7 linked regions of the Homo sapiens genome follow. The protein of the gene in region 1 purifies or fractionates together with the protein of each later gene. This does not show direct contact. Each region holds a gene or a part of one and is shown on either strand. Other genes may lie near its edges. The genes, in order: S1PR2, PALM3, WDFY1, ARL6IP5, GAP43, ARVCF and PTER.

Region 1 (3,506 bases):
TTTTGTTTTGTTTTGTTTTGTTTTGAGACAGTCTCGCTCTGTCACCCAGGCTGGAGTGCAATGGCTGCGATCTTGGCTCACTGCAACCTCTGCCTCCCGGGTTCAAGCGATTCTCCTGCTTCAGTCTCCCAAGTAGCTGGGATCACAGGCGCACACCACCATGCCCGGCTAATTTTTTTTTTTTTTTTTTTTTTTTGAGTAGAGGGGGGTTTTACCATGTTGGCCAGGCTGGTCTTGAACTCATGATCTCAGGTGATAGGCCCGCCTCGGCTTCCCAGAGTGCTGGGATTACAGGCATGAGCCACTGCGCCCGGCCTAAACACATTTCTTATTTATCCAGGAAGCCACAGCAAATCTCTTGGTGAGCAGCAGAGGGGGCGGCTGCACTGCACAGCGTGCTCCCCAGGCCTGGAAAGGGACCTTGATTCTCACTTATGAACCCCAGGAGGGGCCCAGCAGGCCAGGGCAGCCTGGGGGTGTCTGGTCGGGGTGACCCAGAGGTCAGGCTGCGGTTCAAACTCCCCCTAGGGACGTCCACATAGCATTAACTCTATCCTCAGAAAGCCTGAGCTCCCGTCGCCTATAAAGGACCCCATCGGTAGGGCTGGCCGTAGAGCGCCCCCAACTGGACCAATCAGAGGCAGAAGATGGAAAGCCCGGGCCAATAGGCAAATTGCTCAGTGCCCTTGGATTGAAAATGAGCCAATCAGAGCATGGGCTGTTTCCGGCCCATCAGCTGTGTCTGATCCAGCCGCAGCCTGGGCCCAAGCCTGCCTGGGACTGGCTGCAGCGTGCAGAGGGCATCAAGATGCCCGGGGCTGCGTCCAGCAAGGGAACAAGGGGCCTCTGTGTGGCTATCTGGGAGGGGCAGCAGTCCCCGGGGACGTGCACAAGCCCTTGTCTGTTCCCAAACTAGGACGGATGTCCCTCCGCCCTGGGGGAGCAGCTGCCTCTATCCAGCCAGGGGCCAGGATGCCCCTTGGAGGGGGCGGCCAGGGACTGAGATGGCTGGGTGACTCCGGAAACCTCCATCACTCCTGGGCTCAGGAGAACTGGCCTAACCAGACTTTTCTGGAACGGTGCACACAGTCCTTGCCAGACGTGTTTCTAGGGACCTGAGGAGGACTCCCCCTACTCTCCCCCCTCCCTCCCATTTAGCTAAGGCTGGAACTTCCTCTCCCTTCATGAAAGGCATACACTGCACTGGCGCCTCTGACAACCCCTAACCCTACCCCCAAGCTGGGGGAAGGCCATGGTGTCTGCCTCTCATCCTCTCTGCCGAGGAGCGCCTCTCCCCGCCCCCTCCCACCACGGCTCAGTTTTCCTTGGTGGGTGGCGATGGGGGGGGATGGGAGGGGGTAGAGGGAGGGATGGAAGAGGGTGGAGGGGAGGGATGGGAGGGGGTTGGGGGGGTGACTCAGGTTTTCATGGAACAAATGCCTTACCCCCTCCCGGCGGGGCTGCACACCCCTTCACGGCTCACATGACTTCAGCAAAGCTGCCCCATCCTCCCAGCCAGGACCTCCCAGATGGGGTCTCTCCCATCCTGACTCCCCCTACATCCCGCCTTCCTCACACCGGATGTGACTGCAGAGTGAGGACTCCACCCTGTTTGTTCCAGGGGCCTCACATCTGGATTTCATCCTGGCTGGGGAGGGGGTGCCAGCGCCCTGCCCATCCCGGCAGGACCTTCTGTCCCAGGGCAGAGCTAGATGGTGCTGATGAGAACAGGCTGTTGGAGATCTCGTCTGGTTGGCTTACATCCCTTCCCTTCCCAAAGGACTGGAGGAAAGAGGGGAGCTAATAACATTTGGCAGTATTTGTTGAGTGCTTACTATGAGCTAAACGTGCCTCATGCGTCATTTAAAAGGATTTTCCCATCACCCCCATGAAGTGGGCTTTCTTCTCTCTATTGCACAGATAAGGAGGTTCAGGCTGAGACAGCGTCTAGGGACTTGCCCAGTGTTTCAGAGGTGGAATGGGAGCAAATTCTGGATTGCCTTCAAGGTCTGTGTCCTTGAAGATGGTGTGACCTCTGGGATGTTTGAATCTCAGGGCCGCCCTGGTGTCTCCCCAAGACCTTATCTTGGGAGCACCCGTGGCCTCAAGGCTTAGACCCAGCCTGAAATCCAGCGTTAGTGGGTGGTAATGAATGAGCAGGGCACGGAGCTATCAGTGGTGAGACTCTCCCTGACCCAGGTCAGCATGAGGGCGCAGGCGCCTGTGTGTTCCAGAAAAGAGACAAACCCTCCAGGACCTGCCTAGGGCTTGCTCTCTGGGTAGGTGGGCAAGGTTTCTGGAAGTCCACATTATATTTTTCATGCCATTTGGGGGAGCTTCTTTCCCTTTGAAAGCGTGTAGCTACTCAGGAGACTGAGGCAGGAGGATCACTTGAGCCCAGGAGTAGAGACAACTGTGAGCTATGATCATGCCACTGCACTCCAGCCTGGGTGACAGAGCAAGACCCTATCTCTAGAAAATAATAATGAAAATTAAAAGAGGCAAGATGTCATGGTTCATACCTGTAATCTCATTGCTTTGAGAGGCCGAGGAGAATTGCTTGAAGCCAGGAGTTCAGGACCAGCCTGGACAACACAGTGAGACCCAATCTCTAAAAAACAAAAAAACTAGCCAGGCGGCTGGGCCCGGTGGCTCACACTGGTAATCCCAGCGCTTTGAGAGGCCGAGGCAGGCGGATCATGAGGTCAGAAGTTCGAGACCATGCTGGCCAACATGGTGAAACCCTGTCTCTACTAAAAATAAAAAAAAAATTAGCTGGGCCTGGTGGCAGGTGCCCGTAATCCCAGCTACTCAGGAAGCTGAGGCAGGAGAATCACTTGAACCCAGGAGGAGGAGGTTGCAGTGAGCCAAGACCGTGCCGCAGCACTCCAGCCTTGGCAACAGAGGGAGACTCCATCTCAAAAAAAAAAAAAAAAAAAAAAAATTAGCCAGGCGTGGTGGCATGTGCTTGTAGCTGAAGCTGAGGTGGGAGGCTGAGGTGGGAGGATCACTTGAGCCCAGGAGTTCAAGGCTGCAGGGAGCTATGATTGCGCCACTGCACTCCAGCCTGAATGACAGAGCAAGACCTTGTCTTTAAAATATAGATAAATAAAATAAATAAGAAAGAGCGTAGCCTAGGGCTTATAGAGGCCGCAGAGCCAGTCTCTCTGGCCCTGCCGCTGGTTAAATTTGAGACTTTAGGAAAGTGAATTAATCTCTCTGGGTTTCCCGTCTGTAAGTGGGGATGATGATGATTCTGAATTCATGTGGCCCTTCCTCGAAGAGTAACAGAGCAGGAAATTGAATCTCAGCCCATCCGAGGCCAGAGCCCAGGTAGCAGCCACAGCTCTGACCTATTGTCTGTCTGTCTGTCTGTCTTCTCTGCAGTTCTGAAAGCCCCATGGCCCCAGCAGGCCTCTGAGCCCCACCATGGGCAGCTTGTACTCGGAGTACCTGAACCCCAACAAGGTCCAGGAACACTATAATTATACCAAGGAGACGCTGGA
Region 2 (3,111 bases), 3.8 Mb from region 1:
GAGATCACACCACTGCACTCCAGCCTGGGCAACAGAGTGAGACTCTGTCTCAAACAAAAATTAGCTGGGCATGCTGGCAGGTGCCTGTAGTCCCAGCTACTAGGGAGGCTGAGACAGGGAAATCGTTTGAAACCAGGAGGCGAACGTTGCAGTGAGCCGAGATTACGCCACTGCACTCCAGCCTGGGCGACACAGCAAGACTCCATCTCAAAAAAAAAATTAATTTGTATTTATGTTGATTGGAATGTAAGTGCCAAAAACAAAAGGCTTAAGTGTCCCTTGTGCATGGTAACCAGTAACTGACAAAGTAGGCCCCTAATACAGATTGGCTATGGGAATGCAGTATTGTTTAAGCACCTACTGTGTGCAAGGCCCTGGAACATAGGGCAATAAGATAGATGAGGAAGGCAGAGGTACAATGTGGAGTTTGATCCTGAAGGTAATAGAGAGCCACTGAGGGTATTTAGGGGTGGTGGGGTGGGAGCCTAGCATGCAGGGAGGCTGGAGGTGGGGATGAGGGCCAGCCTGACCTTGTCTCCGCCATCTCTGCAGGGTCACCGTCCTCTCTCCCAGTCCATTGTCGAGGCAGGTTCTGTAGGTAAGTGTGGGAGCCCCTAGGTCTGGGGGTCAGGTCACCCCAGAGCCTGGGTGTGAGAGGGTGACTCAAGGGGAGTGTGGATGGCAGTCCTTTTGTTCCATCTTAACCCTGTCTTCCCTTTTGTCCTCTCCCCTCCACCTCTGACTCCCCCAGGCCAGACTGATCTGAACAAGAGAGCCTCCCTGCCGGCTGGACTAGTGGGCACGCCTCCAGAGTCCCCCTCTGAGCCCAGGGAGGATGTCTTGGGGTTTCTGCCAGGCCCGAGGCAGGTCCCCGGGGCAGCAGGAGACTCCTCAGAAGCCAATGGCCCATGCCCCAGCCCCATCCCCACTCCAGAGCAGGGGCTAAGTCAGAGGGCAGTGCCATCCGAAGGGCGGGTGGGTGAGGCCAAAGGAGGGGGCGTGGTGAGTGTGGTGTGGGAAGGGCTGAGGGCCACAGAGGACTGTGCCACAGGGGCCACGGGCCCCGAGCTGGAGGCTAAGGTGGAGGAAGTGGTGCTGGAAGCCATCGGAGACAGGAAGGGAGCTGGTAGCCTGGAGCTCCCGGCCTGGGTGAAGGAGGACAGGGGCATCGTGGAGGTGGTCTGGGAGGGGGTGGGTGGCAGTGATGCAGAGGCCATGGGGGAGATAGGCAGGGTCCCTGAGGTCGTGCAGACTAGCTCGCCTAGGCTCCAGGAGAGATTAGAGGCAGCAGCTTCCATAGAAGGGGAAGATGTGCCCCAGGGCAGCCCTGAGGGTGATGGGCAGGGAGGCTCTGGAGGAGAGGAGGGATCCTTCATTTGGGTGGAGAGAGTGACCCTCAGTGAAGAGTGGGAGGAGCTGCTGGTGGAGGGGTTGGAAGGGCCCGAGGTGGCAGGGAGGGAGAGAGGAGATGAAAGCCCGCTGGGGGCCGAGGGGGCCAAGACGGGAGGAGGCGAGGAGACCTGGGAGGCAGAGAAGAGAAAAGCGGAAGAATCCATGGGAATAGGAAGTGAGGAAAAGCCAGGGACAGGGAGGGATGAAGCGGAGATGTCACCAGTGGTAGAGAGGAAAGGAGGAGAGAAGAAGTTGGAGCTGGAGAGCAGAGGAAGTGCAGAAAAGCTGGGAACAGAGAGGGAAGGAGGTGAGGAACCACTGGGCATAGAGAGAAAAGTTGAGGGACATTTGAGGGCAGAGAAGGAAGGAGATGAGGAAAAGCGAGGGGCAGAGGAGGAGGAGGTAGAAGAACCATTGGGAGTAGAGAAGAAAGGAGGTGAGGAAGAGCCAGAGGCAACCAAAGAACCACTGGAGGCAGAGAGAAAGGGAGGGGAGGAGACACTGGAGGCAGAGAAAAGGGGAGGTGAGGAATCATTGGAGACAGAGAAGACCCAAGGGACGGAGGGAGATCTGAATCTAGAACAAGGGTCTAGGGAAGGAAGTGAATCCCAGGCAGAGGAGATGAATGAGGCAGGGCCTCCCCTTGAGGCTAACACGGAGACAAGGCCAGAGAAGGAAGGACCCCAGCCCCAGGAGAAGCCAGTAGGAGCCCTGGAGGAGGAAGGAGTGAAGCCCCAAACCGCTGCTGAGGGCCAAGGCCCCTTGGGGGATGCCACACCTCTTCTGGCAGAGACCCCAGCCCCAGAGCAGCCCGCCGAATGCCAGCCACTGCTTCAGGGGGAGGGGCCCAGCGCCAACCCCAGTGCCCACCCTGTGCCCACCTACGCGCCTGCCCGGCAGCCTGAGCCATCTGCCCCCACCGAGGGTGAAGAGGCAAGTGGCCCTAAGCAAAAGACGTGCCAGTGTTGTGCGGTCATGTGAACCCATGCCCCTCCACCCCATGTCCAGCTCCTCTCACAGCTACCTCGGCCTCTTGGCACCCAGAAGAGGGTCCCAGGCACAGACAGGGACCACAGGACTGGCCATGGCACCTGGGAGCCAGCTAGCCTGCACGTCCACCTAAACCTGGGCTTCCAGACCCCTTGCCCACTGCCTGTAACCCTGGCCTCCTTCTGCGATGAAGCCTTTATACTTGAAAATAAAATGTGAAAGCACTCAAGACGGCTTGAATGTGTGTGTAGTCAGCACAGAATCACAGCGTCATCTCCTGGTGGGAAATTTGAGGCTTAACCCTGCTACAGTCAAAGATTATGAATCAGTGAGAGTATAGATTGAGCTGCTGTAACAAAAAGACCTCAAAGCTACAGTAGCTATAAAAATATAAAAGTTTATTTTTCTTAGTGGTTCTATCCATGCAGTCATTCAGGGATTCAGGTTCCTTTTCATTTCTTGCTCCACCTTCCCCTTGGGTATGACCAAAGCTGGATCATAGGCATGTGTTATGTTCCAGCTCATAGGCAAGGAAAGGATGTGGGGGAGCCCCCACCCAGACCCCGTGTTGGCATATGTCACTTCTGACCACATTCTGTTGTCAAGAACTCAGTCCATGCTGCACCTGGATGCAAGGGAGCTGAGATGGTGCCCAAATGCAGTGTTTTTTCTTTTCTTTTTTTTTTTTTTTTGCTTTTTATTAGTTTGTTTATTTTTGAGATAAGGTCT
Region 3 (2,250 bases), on another chromosome or scaffold:
ATTCTATATTCCTGATGGGCTTTTCTAAAAAAAAAATTGAATTTATACTAAAACATTATTATGATTTAATTTTTATGTGTAAAGACACTACCTATATGCTTTATTCACATTTTAGTGAACTACATTGTTTTATCTTTCTGAAAATCTTTTTGTTTGAGACAAGGTCTCGCTCTGTCACCCAGACTGTAGTGTAGTGGTGTGACCTCGGTTCAGTGCAACCTCTGCCTTCTGGGCTCAGGTGATCCTCCCACCTCAGCCTCTTGAGTGGCTGGGACCACAGGCATGTGCCACCACACCAGGCTAATTTCTGTATTTTTTTTGGTAGAGACAAGGTTTTGCCACGTTGGCCAGGCTGGTCTTGAACTCCTGGGCTCAAGTGCTACACCCGCCTCGGTCTCCCAAAGTGTTGGGATTACAGGCGTGAGCCACCGTGCCCAGCCACCTGGCCTCTTTCTATAAATCTTAAGGAGGTGTTATGAAAGAGGAGAATGAGAAAATTCATTAATTTGACACCTTTTCAGGTTTAACAGTCGTTTGTTTGTCTGTGTTGACTCTTGCCGTTAGACCTGGTTATCACTGCTGCCTTTTCTGCGTTTCTTCCTTCCTTGTAGATCTGGGACATGACACCTGTGGTGGGCTGCAGTCTGGCGACTGGGTTTTCTCCGCACTGATCTGAGAGCTGGGCGGCGTCCACACCTAAGAACAGCAGCTCCACCAAATGAAGTCCCTCTCACGCAGCTCCACAGCGCTGTCTCGTGAATGGACAGTAGCCACTTACAAACAAATCAACATTTTTAAAAAGAAAATGTAAAGGTGTGTTTTGGGGCATTTGTGGAACTTACCCATGGGGACTAATATGGAAAAGGTCTGTCCATAGTGGTTCCCTGAAGACTGGAATTACTTCAGCAAAACTTCCCCATGAACAGCTAATGTGTAGTGAAAGAATGAGCTAGCAAATGAGTTTTAGCGGGGACAAAAAATCAAACAAAAAAGTGAATGCTTAGAACCTTCTCAAAGCAGTCACAAGTACAGACACTTCACTTAGCCTAGGGGGCCTTCCAGGGTTCTTGTGGCTGTTGTCAGAGCAGGAGCTGGGGGAGGGAAGACTTGTTCTCTCTTTCTTGAGGGGTGGCATTAGGAACTTACGAAACCAGAGACCTTTCCCTATGACTTGGCAGTATGTGAATATCCTCTACACTTAGTTATTGATAAACTTCTTAAAGAGATCTGTTATTTTCAGGTAGTGCCATAATCTGCACTTAGCATTGGCTTGCTTCAGTTGTTTCTCTTCCCAGCCAGTATGCCACAGGTGAACTTTCGGGGTTGTCATTAAGTAAGTTGTGAAATTTCTGTAATAACAAAGGCAGTCCGCATTCTTCCCTTTCCCCCAAATTCCTAGGGCAAAACTTTTTTATGGTGCTGTTAACATGGGAGTCACACAAGCCGCCTGACTTTTTCTCATTGCCATTAGTAATGACTGATGGAAAACCCAGCCACCACTGTGATGCGAAATGATCAGTCTGTTGCCTGAAACAGCCCAGTCCTCTTAACTGAAACAGCATTCTACTTCTTGTTCCAAGATGAGCCTCTGCAATATTCTGGCAATTTAATATACCCCCTACAAAAGCACTCCACAGCTTTTACACTATTTTGACTTTGAGTTATAACTAGTATTATTCATGTTTTCATAAAAAGAAGTTAGTGACCCAGAGCTATAATCATCCATCAAGTCTTCCACAATAATTCCCAACTCATAAATTGCTTTCCTAACAACTAGCAAAAGCTATTGTTCATAATGGCATTTCTAAAGCTTTTGGGCACTGTGTACCAGGATGAGGAAGAGAAGAAATGAGGAGCCTGTCTTTTAATATTCCAGTATTTGTGTGTTTGATTTTTTTTGACAACAGTACATATATCTATTTCTCTAGGGATATGGAAGTAAGTGGAGAAGGGCCTACCTTTTTAAAGGACAAATATAAAAATAGCAACAGTATCTTTGCTAATCTTACTAATAGATATTGATTAAAAAAAAAAAACCTCAGTACTGCATCACTGTGTTGGGATCATACCAGGACAATAGGGTCATTCCATATGATAAAACTAAAGGACTAAATTTGTTTTATAATGATGTCTTAGAGGGACTGAAAGGTTTAAGGAGGCGATCAAACTAAAATGTCTTAATGGCTGTGTGACACACGTAAGGAAAGGAAAGGGGGTCACGCACATCATGTACTGGAATGATCTGCATTA
Region 4 (2,334 bases), on another chromosome or scaffold:
GCCGGATGAAGAAGCGCTACCCCACGACGTTCGTTATGGTGGTCATGTTGGCGAGCTATTTCCTTATCTCCATGTTTGGAGGAGTCATGGTCTTTGTGTTTGGCATTACTTTTCCTTTGCTGTGTAAGTGAACTTGAGTTTTTTCTTCCATCATCAAAAAAATGTAGAAGCAATTATCCAACGGGAATTCCATAACCCATTTCTTATATGTGTTGGCATGTCAGCAAAAGTGTCAGAATTTTCTAAAACAGCTTTCTACTTGTTATCCAACTAGACCCAGATAACACAGAACTGAGGTCAAGAACTATGAGGTCAAGGCCTTATAGTTCATTAATTCCACAAATATTTGTTGGGGCATCTGCTATGTGTCATACATTCTTTTGTTGTTGTTGAGATGGGGTCTACTCTGTCACCCACGCTGTGGTGTTATCTCGGCTTACTGCAACCTCTGCCTCCTGAATAGCTGGGACCACAGGTGCACACCCAGCTAATTTTTTGTGTTTTGGGTAGAGACCGGGGTTTTACTATGTTGCCCAGGCTGATCTCGGACTCCCAAGCTTGAGTGATCTAGCTTCCTTGGACTCCCCAAGTGCTGGGATTACAGGCGTGAGCCACTTCGCCCAGCTGTGTGCCATACATTCTTATGGGGACACAACAGTAAACAGAACAAAGACAAATCCCAGGTCATACAGCAGGAATGTGGCATAACCTGCACTAGACTCCAGATTTGTCTAATAAGAGAGTCTATTCTCAATTTTTAAGTGCCATTCCTATTGTCCTGACACAGGAATGAATGTATTTATTATTTGGAAGTAGACTATTTATTCTCCACTTGCTCAGGAGATCATAACTAGTGTTAAAAGTTTGGTAAGTCTATAGGAATAATTGGCTCAGAATATAGGTACTAAATACTCAGATTCTGGTGAAGAGATCTAGATATTCTCTAAGTTTTACATGAATTATTTACTAAGACTCCAAACACTTGAAGCCTGAAATAGACAAGAAATAAAATCCCAGCCTAATCAGCAGAAATCTGATTAAAATTCTAGTATATTAAGTGACAGGCACATCCCTTTAACTTTCAATAACATTTGACATGTGCACTTATTCCACTAAATGAAATTATTTGCTTGTTTAGGGCTTTGTTAGATTAAGTCCAGAATATTTATGGATACATCCCATACCCTATTGGATAAAATATCTGAGCCAACAAATTCACACATTTTTGGAATTTTCTTCAGGTTTTCTGTAGGTGCTTAACGCTTAGTATTTCAATGATACTGTTTAATCAAACAGCTTGCTAATTTTAATACCTTTCCACATCAGAACCTGAGACAGGCCAGTGTAACGAAATGTATCAGAGGTAGACAGTTAAGAGTCCTGATTTCTATTCTTAGACCTGCTGGAAACCAGCATGTGATTTGGACCAGTCATCCTATATGGGCTGTAGTTCACTCATCTCTAAAGTAAGGAGATTAGATAAGTGATTCCCAAACGGATAATTGTGACAAGCATTCAGGATACTTTTTAAAAATATACATTTCCCAGCCACATCTTTATTTTGTGGGTCAACAGTGGTACCCAAGGATGTTAGGTTTTTAGAAAGCTCGTCAACTATTTCTAACGGGTGGTCTAGGTTGAGATCCTCCAGATGAATCCACATCAGGGTTTTTCAAAATAAGGGTCCAAGATCCACCTACATCAGAATCATCTGGAGTGATTATTAAAATAATGAATTCTGGAGCCTTCCCTCAGTTGTAACAGTCTGAATTTGGGGTGATGGAGACCAGGAATTTGCCTATTTAACAGGCTCTCCAGGTGATTTGAATGTACATGGAAGTTGTAAAACCACTGGTATAGATCATATGGAGAGAGGGTTACCTGTTTAAAATACAGATTCCCAGGCCTGTCTCTTTAAGGCTCAGGTGGAGGAGGTCCAGGAAAGGGGATAGGGAATCTGTGGTAAAATAATCAAGCAAGTTTGGGGAACGGTAGGCTATAGAAACTCTGTAAAGCCCTTAGATTTTTACATCTAGAATTCTATACCCAACACTTTGGGTAAAGCCTCCGGGAGGCACTTTAAAAGTGGACTTTACTCACGTGCTCCTGCAGGGAACAAGATACAGATAATCCCGAATCGAGCAAGAGTTCTTTTCTGGAAAGCCTCGGGTAAGTTGATTTTTAAGTAGGATGGAATCCCGTTGATTCACTCTGAATTTCAGGACATTTAAGTAGCATCTGCAAGGTGATGATATCAGTGTGTGAAGGAAAGGGTGTGGCTTCCAGATAATGGTCCTTCCTGTTGAATACAGCATTTTCCTTTAATGCAGAAAA
Region 5 (2,243 bases), on another chromosome or scaffold:
TGCAGTCTGCTTCATAACTAAAATTTATTGCAGCGAAAAAACACAAAGCAAAATAAGCAAAGCTGAAAGTTGCGCATGGGCAAAGTTTGGAGGAAACCAAACAAATTTCTAAGAGTCTTCTCCCCATGGAGTCACCCAGGATGTGCTTAATTCTTTCAGCAATAAATTACCATAACACATGGAAGATGTCATCTATTAGGGAAGTTTAACTGAGTGAGTTTGCACTGGTAATAGGTCATGTAGGCACCCTCCAGCAAGCAGGTACAAAATTCAGACTCCCAGAAGAAAAATAGATGTTCAGCATAAACCACATTGTTTGTACTATGATTTTAGGCACCTGGAACCACTCTTATCAGTTAAGGAATGATGAGAATCTTCTCAAAATCCAAGATCCCAGATGCCAGCCAATGGTCAACTTTACAAACAAGCCTTTCTAAGGATAGCAGTCCCAGGCCTACTGTATTAACTGTTTTTTTTTTTCCTCAATCCCTGATATTGACGATGCCTCTGTCTTAAAATGGAGCTATTGTTATTGCTTGTCCTCCTCTTAACAACTACTAGGTGCTGATTATTCTTGGAAAGGTAAACTGGAGTCCATGTAATTTTGTTAGGCTAACAAATTTGTGTTTAATTAGAAGATAACAGACATAGCTTGAAAGCACTTGAGCAAGGAACATAATACAGCTATGCTTTGAGGAGATTAAACTAGGAATACTAAATAAAATAGTTTTACTGTACATAGATGTTGAGATTAGAGAAATGGGGTCATTAAGGAGACCATTAAAAGAGCTCATCAAAATGTATGTCTCTTTTAAATCAGCCAGCTACATATTTACATTCAGATGAAGCTGAACATTTATACCCACCATTATTAAACAAATTTATGGAATTTCTTCTCTGAAATACCTATCAAAAAACATTCTTTTAGAGCTCTTCAGTAGCAGAAATGCTTATTTTTTGAAAATAGGTTAGGTTTTTAGAATCTAACTAGACTAGTCTGGTAAATAAAGTAAGCAGCTACGATGGGTAATTTTACCTTATAATACTCACTTTTGACCAGGGTTTTAAAGTCTGACTTATTTTATAGGGTTCATAACTCACTATAAGCTATTCATAAAATATAGCTATTCTAGTGATGCTACCTACTACTACTTATAAGATTTTTTTAAGGCTATAGCTTTCCAAAGTGACTGTAATTACCTGTTGAACACAGTGCACCTATCCAAGTTTTGCATGAAACTAACTCAATTCTGATCATTATAATACACTATGCATCAGCAGTATTCCTCAGGAATTACAAAAATTTTGGTGTGCTAATGAGGTATTTAATTTTCTACCAGAAGAAAGATTCCAGATTTATTTCAGTGAAGTCCTTCTAAAACAATTAGGAATTCTTTTGGAGAGTTTGCTTGGTTCCCTAACCCTGCTCAAACCTTTGGATATTACAAGTATGCCCAAGGTAGTTTACCATCCTTATCAGTTCCAAGAAGCAATGTTTTTAGTGCCCTTTTCAAACTGCAAAATAAACATAATATTGATTTACACAACCCAGAAACATATAGAAAGATAGTAGTTATAGGAACAAGAGAAGACTTCAAATCTCTCCTTCCAAAATAAAGACATGGGAGCTATTATGTATGCTTAGAGGGAGATTAGGAAATGAGAGAAAAAGGGAAGTAGACTGGGAAAGGTGAGAATTGCATGTTTGTTGAATAAAGGGAATAAAACTCAAAAATGCAGAAACAGAAACTTGAACATTCAGATGGTTCTGAGATGCAGCTACACTTTCTGTTCCCTTGTTGGAATACAATCAAGCTAAATCCTCCCAAATTCTCCCACTTTCTCTTGTCATCCATTGCCTGGTCCTAGGACAAAAGACGAAATTTGGCACAAATCTGTTTATTATGACAGGAAATTATGAAGCTCTATTGAGAGAGCCTCAATATATATTCATTTTCTCAAATGCTTCAAAGTATTTTAAATGTAAATATTTATTAATTTATTTGTTCAATAAGTTGTTACTGGACACCTGCACTGTGCCAGGCATTCTTCTAGGTACTGAGAAAAAAAAAAAAAAAAGCAAAATCCTTGCTCTCCTTAAAGCCTTTCATAATATACCTTTAAAAGACAATAAAATTCAGGCTGGGTGCGGTGGCTCACACCTGTAATCCCAGCACTTTGGGAGGCTGAGATGGGTGGATCACCTGAGGTCAGGAGTTCGGGACCAGCTTGGCCAAAATGGT
Region 6 (3,506 bases), on another chromosome or scaffold:
GCCAGGCGGGCATGCTCACATCCAGGTTCAGAGGCTGGGCCAGACGAACACCTGCAGGGACAGGGCAGTGCCTATTGGGCTGTATGCTGGGATCTGGCTTGAGAGAGAGGTCTGTCCTGGTGGGGCCTAGCCAGTTGGAAGAGCCTGCATGTCACCAGGGTGGAGGGCTCCAGCCGCAGGAGGGCTGTGGGGGAGTATTACAGGCAGAGCAGGGCTGATGCAGATACCCCAGCGGGGAGTGTGCTTGGAGTGTGTTGGAGCAGAAAGCCCAGCAGGGCAGGAGTAGAGGGAGCATGGGGCATGAGGACTGGCGAGGGTGTGATGAAATGTCACTGGGTGGGTACAGGGGAGATCGAGGTAGTACCCAAGCCAGGCTGAAGCCCCAGTTTGGAGACAGGCAAGCTTGGAAGGCTGTTTTGACCCCTCATTTCTGGAGCACTGGGCAGAGCAGCAGGACGGCGCCTCAGTTGCCCGGGAACTTGGAGTGGTTGCCAGGAAGAGTGCCTCCTGTTGCTAGGGCAGCTGCCCTGGTTGCACTGCATCAGTTGACTTACAGAGGGTGGGCTCTATTGTCAGTGGGGGAGGGTGGGCCCTGTTGCTAGGGGGCGTAGCTCTCTGCACAGCTTCAGTTACTGGTGAAAGCAGGTCCTCTTGCTAGGGGTGTGGCCTTGGTTATACAACTCTCAGTTACTGGCCAATGCTGGTCTTGTTGCCAGGGAGGGTGGGCCCTATTACCAGGGGCGTGGCCAGGATGCATAGCTTCAGGGACCTACCGGGAAATGCGGGTCTTGTTGCTAGGAGAGCGTTCCTGGTTGACACCTCCCTCCCCACCCCAGGCCTCCTGGATGCTCCTGCTGCCAGGCAGGTCCAACTGATTTGAGCCTCAGTTTGTTCCTCTGTGAAATGGGAACGCTTTTCCCCTTGGGTGACTATATGTTGATAGTAAATATTACGTGACTCATCCACACCCATCCCTGGCCCCAGCTCACCCACGCCCTGGGAGCTCTGAAGCGGGAAGCGGGAGGGGTATGATGGATGAGAGCAGATTCTGGGTGACCGTGGGTGGCGGTTGCCCTGCACCTAGGCTTTGAGCTGCTGTACCAGCCCGAGGTGGTACGTCTCTACCTCTCCCTCCTCACGGAGAGCCGGAACTTCAACACCCTGGAGGCTGCCGCCGGCGCTCTGCAGAACCTCAGTGCCGGCAACTGGATGGTGAGGGACCAGGTCGGGCAGGGTGGGCAAGTCCTGAGAGAGGGAATCCCAGGCACCTCACTGGTGCAGCTCCTGCCTCGGCTGGCGGGGAAAGGAGGGGCCACACCACCACCCCAGGATCCAAGAGGTGTATGGGCTGCGGGCAATGCGTGCACCCTGGACGGTGGGAAAACCTCGGTGGAGGTGCCGTTGAGCTTTTGGGGTAGGGCTTTGTCGGGCACGGGAGCAGGAAGGTCCAGCTGGAGAGAGCGGTCAGCGTCTGGAGGTGGGAGAGTGCCTGGCATGTATGTCTGAGCAACCCTCTCCCCGCCTCCGCAGTGGGCCACGTACATCCGCGCCACAGTGCGCAAAGAGCGCGGGCTGCCGGTGCTTGTGGAACTGCTGCAGTCTGAGACCGACAAGGTGGTGCGCGCCGTCGCCATCGCTCTGCGCAACCTCTCGCTGGACCGGCGCAACAAAGACCTCATCGGTGAGGACGCCTGCAAAGCCCACGCCTGGGCACCGAACTGTGCCTGCAGCTTTGGGGTCCCATCGGAGGGGCTTGGAGGATGAGTGGTTTGGGAGTCCAGGCCCCGGCCCTCTCGCTTGGGCGCTGTCCCAACTGGAGGTAGCTCCAGTCCCCCCGGCCCTGTCTCTGAAGCTCAGCGCCCTGCTCACAGGGGCTCCTGTGACCGCCTGCACACAGGCGGTCTCCAGGGGCTCTCCTGGCAGTGCCCCTCGCCCTCGCGGGATCCCTGCTCCTTCCTGGAGAGGTGGGGCAGAGGTGTGTTCTGACACCTAGTCCTGCCCCTCAGGGAGCTACGCCATGGCTGAGCTTGTGCGGAATGTGCGCAATGCACAGGCTCCGCCGCGACCGGGGGCCTGCCTGGAGGAAGACACCGTGGTGGCGGTGCTCAACACCATCCACGAAATCGTGTCCGACAGCCTGGATAACGCGCGCTCGCTCCTGCAGGCACGCGGGGTGCCAGCGTTGGTGGCTCTCGTGGCCTCCAGGTGTGGAGGGGCGGGGTCGGTGGCTTGGGGAGCCGCGGAGGTGGGGGAGGGGCCACCACTGACCCCGCCCCCGGCCCCACAGCCAATCGGTACGCGAAGCGAAGGCGGCGTCACACGTGCTGCAGACAGTGTGGAGCTACAAGGAGCTGCGTGGTACCTTGCAGAAAGATGGTTGGACCAAGGCGCGCTTCCAGGTGCGGCTTCCCTGGCCTTCCTTCCATTCCCTGCTCACTTTGCCTTATTCCCACTCCATGTGCTTCACCCACCCTGTGTCTGTGTTTTATGTCTCAGTCAGCTGCTGCTACTGCCAAGGGGCCTAAGGGAGCACTGAGTCCTGGGGGCTTCGATGACAGCACGCTGCCACTGGTGGACAAGAGCCTTGGTGAGTGGTGGAGCTTAGGGAGCCTAGAGGGTGGCGACCCCAGCTGCCCCAGTTGCCTGACCCTTGGGTGAAGGTGAAGGAGGAGTCAGGCCTCCCACTGAGACGGCTTCCATAGGCCACTTTCCCTGCCCTCTGCCTCTTGGCTACTCCCTTCCCACAGCATCCGCGCTGTTGTCAAGCTGGGGTGAGGCTGCCAGCTGGCAGAGGTTGGGCACCTTAGTGACAGAGAGCCTCTAGGGCTACCTGGGCCAGCCCTGTGTGGGCTTCTCTGCCCCGATCCCCCCTGGCTGCCACATGCAGCCCGTCTCCTCCTCCTGCCTTGCAGAGGGCGAGAAAACTGGCAGCCGGGATGTGATCCCCATGGATGCGCTGGGCCCAGGTGAGTGCAGATGCAGTGTGGTTGGTTTTCTGTGCCGGGAGGGGACCAAGGCCTGAAGTGGGCCTGCTGGTTTTATGGGGTGTAGATGGTGCTGGGTGGAGGAGAGATATTTGGTTTAGGGGTGCTTAGAGGGTGAGGTACAGGGCAGCTAGAGAGGGATTAGTGCTCAGCCAGGGGCTCTGACCCACAAGTGGAGGGGAGTCTGGAGAGTTGGCAGGGTGTTGGTGAGAGCTGGCACCAGCCTGGATCTCCAGGACAGGGTGGGTGGGGGCTGTCTCCCAAAGCCCCTGTCCCACGAGTCCCCTGTGTCTGGGCTGAGAGGGAGATCTGCTCCTACAGGGCCTCCCTCAGAGCGCCCCTCATGCCCCACCTTACCCCATCTACAGACGGATACTCCACGGTGGACCGGAGGGAGCGGAGGCCACGGGGCGCCAGCTCTGCAGGAGAGGCCTCTGAGAAGGAACCCTTGAAAGTAAGTGGTCATGTGGCTGTGGGCAGGTCCCCGGTGAGGCCCCGTGTCTAGGGGTTGCTGGAGAGCAG
Region 7 (3,506 bases), on another chromosome or scaffold:
CTTCCAAGTGATGACTACACATCTTTGGAGAATCTCCTCAGTTCAGGAACTTCTTTTTAACTAACATTACTTGGAGGAGAGCTTAATGCTCGTGACTTTAAACATTTATGTAATTAGGTAAAAAGGGAAGCAACATTATTAAATGACTTGGATAGAGTTCATCAAGCAGTTAAGAAAAAAATGTACATAATCAAGCGTACCTTGCAGTCTGAATGACAAACATCCAAATATTTGCTGTAACAACTCGCACATATTTTTACCAAAAATTTCCTCTCCGAATCAGAAACTTACTATGATGAGTCCATGTACTTACGTGTACCATCAAAAAGGGCCAGAGGATCGCTAGAGTATGCTGTGGTCCTATCTGCTCTTTCTATAAAGTGGTATCTTGTGCTCATCTTGCTTAAATATGTTGTGTCTTACAATTATCACGATACTATCAACTGAAAACAGAAAGGTCTGTGAGAAAAGATGTGAGCCTAGGAAGCTAAAAACTTTTTCTTTTTTTTTTTTTTTTGAGATGGAGTCTCGCTCTGTTGCCATGCTGGAGTGCATTGGCGCGATCTCGGCTGACTGCAACCTCTGCCTCCCGAATTCAAGCGATTCTCCTGCCTCAGCCTCCCGAGTAGCTGGAACTATAGGCACGTGCCACCATGCCCAGCTAACTTTTATATTTTTAGTATATTTTCAGCATGTTGGCCGGGATGGTCTCAATCTCTTGACTCGTGATCTACCCGCCTCGGCCTCCCAAAGTGCTGGGATTACAGGCATGAACCACCGCACCCGGCCTCTTTTCTTTTTTTTGAGACGGTGTCTTGCTCTGTCACCCAGGCCGGAGTGTGGTGGTGATCATAGCTCACTTGAGCTTCTGGGCTAAAGCGATCCTCCTGAGTAGCTGGATTACAGGTGCTCAATACCTCAATACCACGCCTGGTTTTTTTTTTTTGGACAGAGGACCTACAGGGAACTTTATTCTCGTGCTTTTGTCTTCACTGGGGCACTACCCCTCGGGAAGACCAGGTTGGCTCCTGGCACAGGGATGCACCTGGTTAATTTAAAAACATTTTTTTTTAGAGATGGGGTCTCACTCTGTTGCCCAGGTTCGTCTCCAACTCCAAGGCTCAAGTGATCCTCCCACCTCGGCCTCCCAAAATGCTAGGATCACAGGCATGAGCCACCACAACCAGCTAGCAAAGCTCTTATATTCAAAGAAATATTGGGGAATGTGAAGGCACAGAAGGCCTCAGTTTGACATTATCTGTCCATATCTATAATGCATACTATCTTTGCTTCTGACGAGCTTTTACAATGTTCCCTCAGAATAGAATAATAGGGTTTTTTTTAATCCTTAAAAGAATCTTACGTAGTAAATTGGTAGTCAGAAATATTAGAGGGTTGTTACATGGGTATGTAAGAGTATATAAGTAAAACTTGGGGTTTTGAATGGGCTGTAAAACACTTTTCTCTTTAAAACTGTTTTAAGTGGAAATGTATTATTGAAGCTGTGTGATGGATGAGTAGGGGTTCACTACACTGCACTCTCTACATTAGCGAATTTTTGAGAATGTCCATATTAAAAAGTTTAAATAAAAGTTATTTTTTAAAAAGGAGAATAAATGAGTGAAATATATGGCCTCCTGTGAGGCAAAATTCGATACCTATATAAGGGACACATTAAATGAGGTATGCATGCCTATGTTAGACAATATTAAGTCGAGTATGGTTTTAACTACCAATCGCTCTGTAGAAAAGTGTTGTTGAGGCTGAGCGTGGTGGCTCCTGCCTGTAATCACAGCTACTCAGGAGGCTGAGGCAGGAGAATGGCTTGAACCTGGGAGGCGAAGGTTGCAGTGAGCCTAGATCGTGCCACTGCACTCTAGCCTGGGCGACAGAGTGAGTGAGATTCCATCTCAAAAACAAAAAAGAAAATTATTATTGAAACCCTTATCCAAGAGTAGCTGGAAGAGTATCTTTCCTAGTTTTGGCCTAGATTATTTGAGACATTTTTTATTTATGCTTCTCTGGCATATGACATGTCTATTACTTCCATGAGTCAGTGCCTTTCTCCCAGTTAGCATTTCCCAGGCTCTCAGGCTGCAGTGTCTCCAAGCTCAGTCTTTGATTTCAGAGCCTATTAGCCATGGCACAAATCCGGTGAACACAGAAACTTACAAAGAGGCCACTTGTCTCCGATGCACTGATGCACCATGCGTGGCTAGTGCCTTCTGCCCAATGTCTTCTCTGAAAACATTCCCTGCTGTTGTAGGAAGGATCCTACAGGCTGACACCAAGGAAGCCATGCTGTCTCCTGGGTGGTCTTCAGAGGACACTGCCTCCTGAGGGGCTGACATGGCCAAAGCCCATCCAAGTCCTCTCAGCCTCCATATCTAGGATGAGAAGTTGTCCTGGGCCTGTGAGTCTCGCTCACATTTCTGCATAAGTGTCAGGCCTGGCATAGATGATTCCCTTTTGCTTTGGTGCTGCTTTGAGCTTGCCCCGTTATCATTTAGTAAAGTGCATCTTCAAGAGTGTTTCTCTTTCTCCTGTGTGCCAGATATTTCGGAGCAGCTCAGTGCATAAGTGGTAAAGAATTTGCTATTTCCAATACTGACATTACTGAGACTTTGACTTGCAACCATAGTTGATCTTGAATGTTCGGGGGTGGGGAGAAGGCTCTTACAAATAGAGGTGCAATGCACGCCACCCCACCCCCAACATTTTTTTTTTTTTTTGAGATAGAGTTGGTCTGTCGCCCAGGCTGGAGTGTAGCAGTGTGATCTTGGCTAACTGCAACCTCCACCACCTCCCGGGTTCAAGTGATTCTTGTGCCTCAGCTTCTTGAGTAGCTGAGATTAAAGGCGTGCACCACAATGCCTGGCTAATTTTTTGTATTTTTACTAGAGACGTGTTTCCACCATGTTGATCAGGCTGGTGCAGTGCCCCTTGTTGATGATCATTCCTCTCAAGTGTTATCTTTTCACTCTTTGCCTGTTAGTGTAGTTAGATAGAGAGATCAAACTATTTCAAGTTAGAAGTTCAAGTTTAAAATGTTCTCCATGAAGACTCTACATAGTCCCATTTGTGTATTGAATTTAATTGTTAGATTTGTTATATATATTAAAGAACATATGCAGTTTCTTAGCATTAGAAACATTTCATGGACTGTTGCTACTCGTTATTGTTGCCATGGTGAGGTCAAAACGCTTAATTTCTTAATTCTTTCTTTTCTATTTTGATAGACCACCAAGATTGTAAGACATTTTTGTTTGTTTGTTTGTTTGTTTTGTTTTGTTTTGTTTTTTTGAGACAGGGTCTCCCTCTGTTGACTCGGCGAGAGTGCATTGGTGCAATCTCGGCTTGCTGCAACCTCTGCCTCCTGGGTTCAAGCAATTCTCATGCCTCAGCCTCCCAAGGAGCTGGGATTACAGGCGTGCGCTACCATGCCCAGCTAATTTTTGTATTTTTAGTAGAGACAGGGTTTTGCCATGTTAGCCAGGTTGGTCTTG

Evidence for each region.
Region 2: the proteins of S1PR2 (region 1) and PALM3 purify together in Homo sapiens (affinity purification with mass spectrometry; 2 studies listed by BioGRID and IntAct, with this or other methods). This does not show direct contact.
Region 3: the proteins of S1PR2 (region 1) and WDFY1 purify together in Homo sapiens (affinity purification with mass spectrometry; 2 studies listed by BioGRID and IntAct, with this or other methods). This does not show direct contact.
Region 4: the proteins of S1PR2 (region 1) and ARL6IP5 purify together in Homo sapiens (affinity purification with mass spectrometry; 2 studies listed by BioGRID and IntAct, with this or other methods). This does not show direct contact.
Region 5: the proteins of S1PR2 (region 1) and GAP43 purify together in Homo sapiens (affinity purification with mass spectrometry; 2 studies listed by BioGRID and IntAct, with this or other methods). This does not show direct contact.
Region 6: the proteins of S1PR2 (region 1) and ARVCF purify together in Homo sapiens (affinity purification with mass spectrometry; 2 studies listed by BioGRID and IntAct, with this or other methods). This does not show direct contact.
Region 7: the proteins of S1PR2 (region 1) and PTER purify together in Homo sapiens (affinity purification with mass spectrometry; 2 studies listed by BioGRID and IntAct, with this or other methods). This does not show direct contact.

Annotation. Positions count from the first base shown.
Region 1 is NC_000019.10:10,224,829-10,228,334, reverse strand, and holds part of S1PR2 (sphingosine 1-phosphate receptor 2), read left to right. Parts: intron 1-3,387; 5' UTR 3,388-3,429; coding exon 3,430-3,506. UniProt on the Homo sapiens protein: Receptor for the lysosphingolipid sphingosine 1-phosphate (S1P). S1P is a bioactive lysophospholipid that elicits diverse physiological effects on most types of cells and tissues.
Region 2 is NC_000019.10:14,052,867-14,055,977, reverse strand, and holds the end of PALM3 (paralemmin-3), read left to right. Parts: intron 1-552; coding exon 553-598; intron 599-751; coding exon 752-2,373; 3' UTR 2,374-2,611; downstream 2,612-3,111. UniProt on the Homo sapiens protein: ATP-binding protein, which may act as a adapter in the Toll-like receptor (TLR) signaling.
Region 3 is NC_000002.12:223,877,092-223,879,341, reverse strand, and holds part of WDFY1 (WD repeat and FYVE domain-containing protein 1), read left to right. Parts: intron 1-611; coding exon 612-671; 3' UTR 672-2,250. UniProt on the Homo sapiens protein: Positively regulates TLR3- and TLR4-mediated signaling pathways by bridging the interaction between TLR3 or TLR4 and TICAM1.
Region 4 is NC_000003.12:69,101,934-69,104,267, forward strand, and holds part of ARL6IP5 (PRA1 family protein 3), read left to right. Parts: coding exon 1-123; intron 124-2,334. UniProt on the Homo sapiens protein: Regulates intracellular concentrations of taurine and glutamate. Negatively modulates SLC1A1/EAAC1 glutamate transport activity by decreasing its affinity for glutamate in a PKC activity-dependent manner.
Region 5 is NC_000003.12:115,717,506-115,719,748, reverse strand, and holds part of GAP43 (neuromodulin), read right to left. Parts: intron 1-2,243. UniProt on the Homo sapiens protein: This protein is associated with nerve growth. It is a major component of the motile 'growth cones' that form the tips of elongating axons. Plays a role in axonal and dendritic filopodia induction.
Region 6 is NC_000022.11:19,971,818-19,975,323, reverse strand, and holds part of ARVCF (splicing regulator ARVCF), read left to right. Parts: intron 1-1,084; coding exon 1,085-1,212; intron 1,213-1,530; coding exon 1,531-1,681; intron 1,682-2,006; coding exon 2,007-2,205; intron 2,206-2,287; coding exon 2,288-2,399; intron 2,400-2,496; coding exon 2,497-2,587; intron 2,588-2,912; coding exon 2,913-2,966; intron 2,967-3,352; coding exon 3,353-3,438; intron 3,439-3,506. UniProt on the Homo sapiens protein: Contributes to the regulation of alternative splicing of pre-mRNAs.
Region 7 is NC_000010.11:16,443,504-16,447,009, forward strand, and holds part of PTER (N-acetyltaurine hydrolase), read left to right. Parts: intron 1-3,506. UniProt on the Homo sapiens protein: N-acetyltaurine hydrolase that regulates feeding by catalyzing the hydrolysis of N-acetyltaurine into taurine and acetate. N-acetyltaurine has anorexigenic and anti-obesity effects that are dependent on GFRAL receptor and GDF15.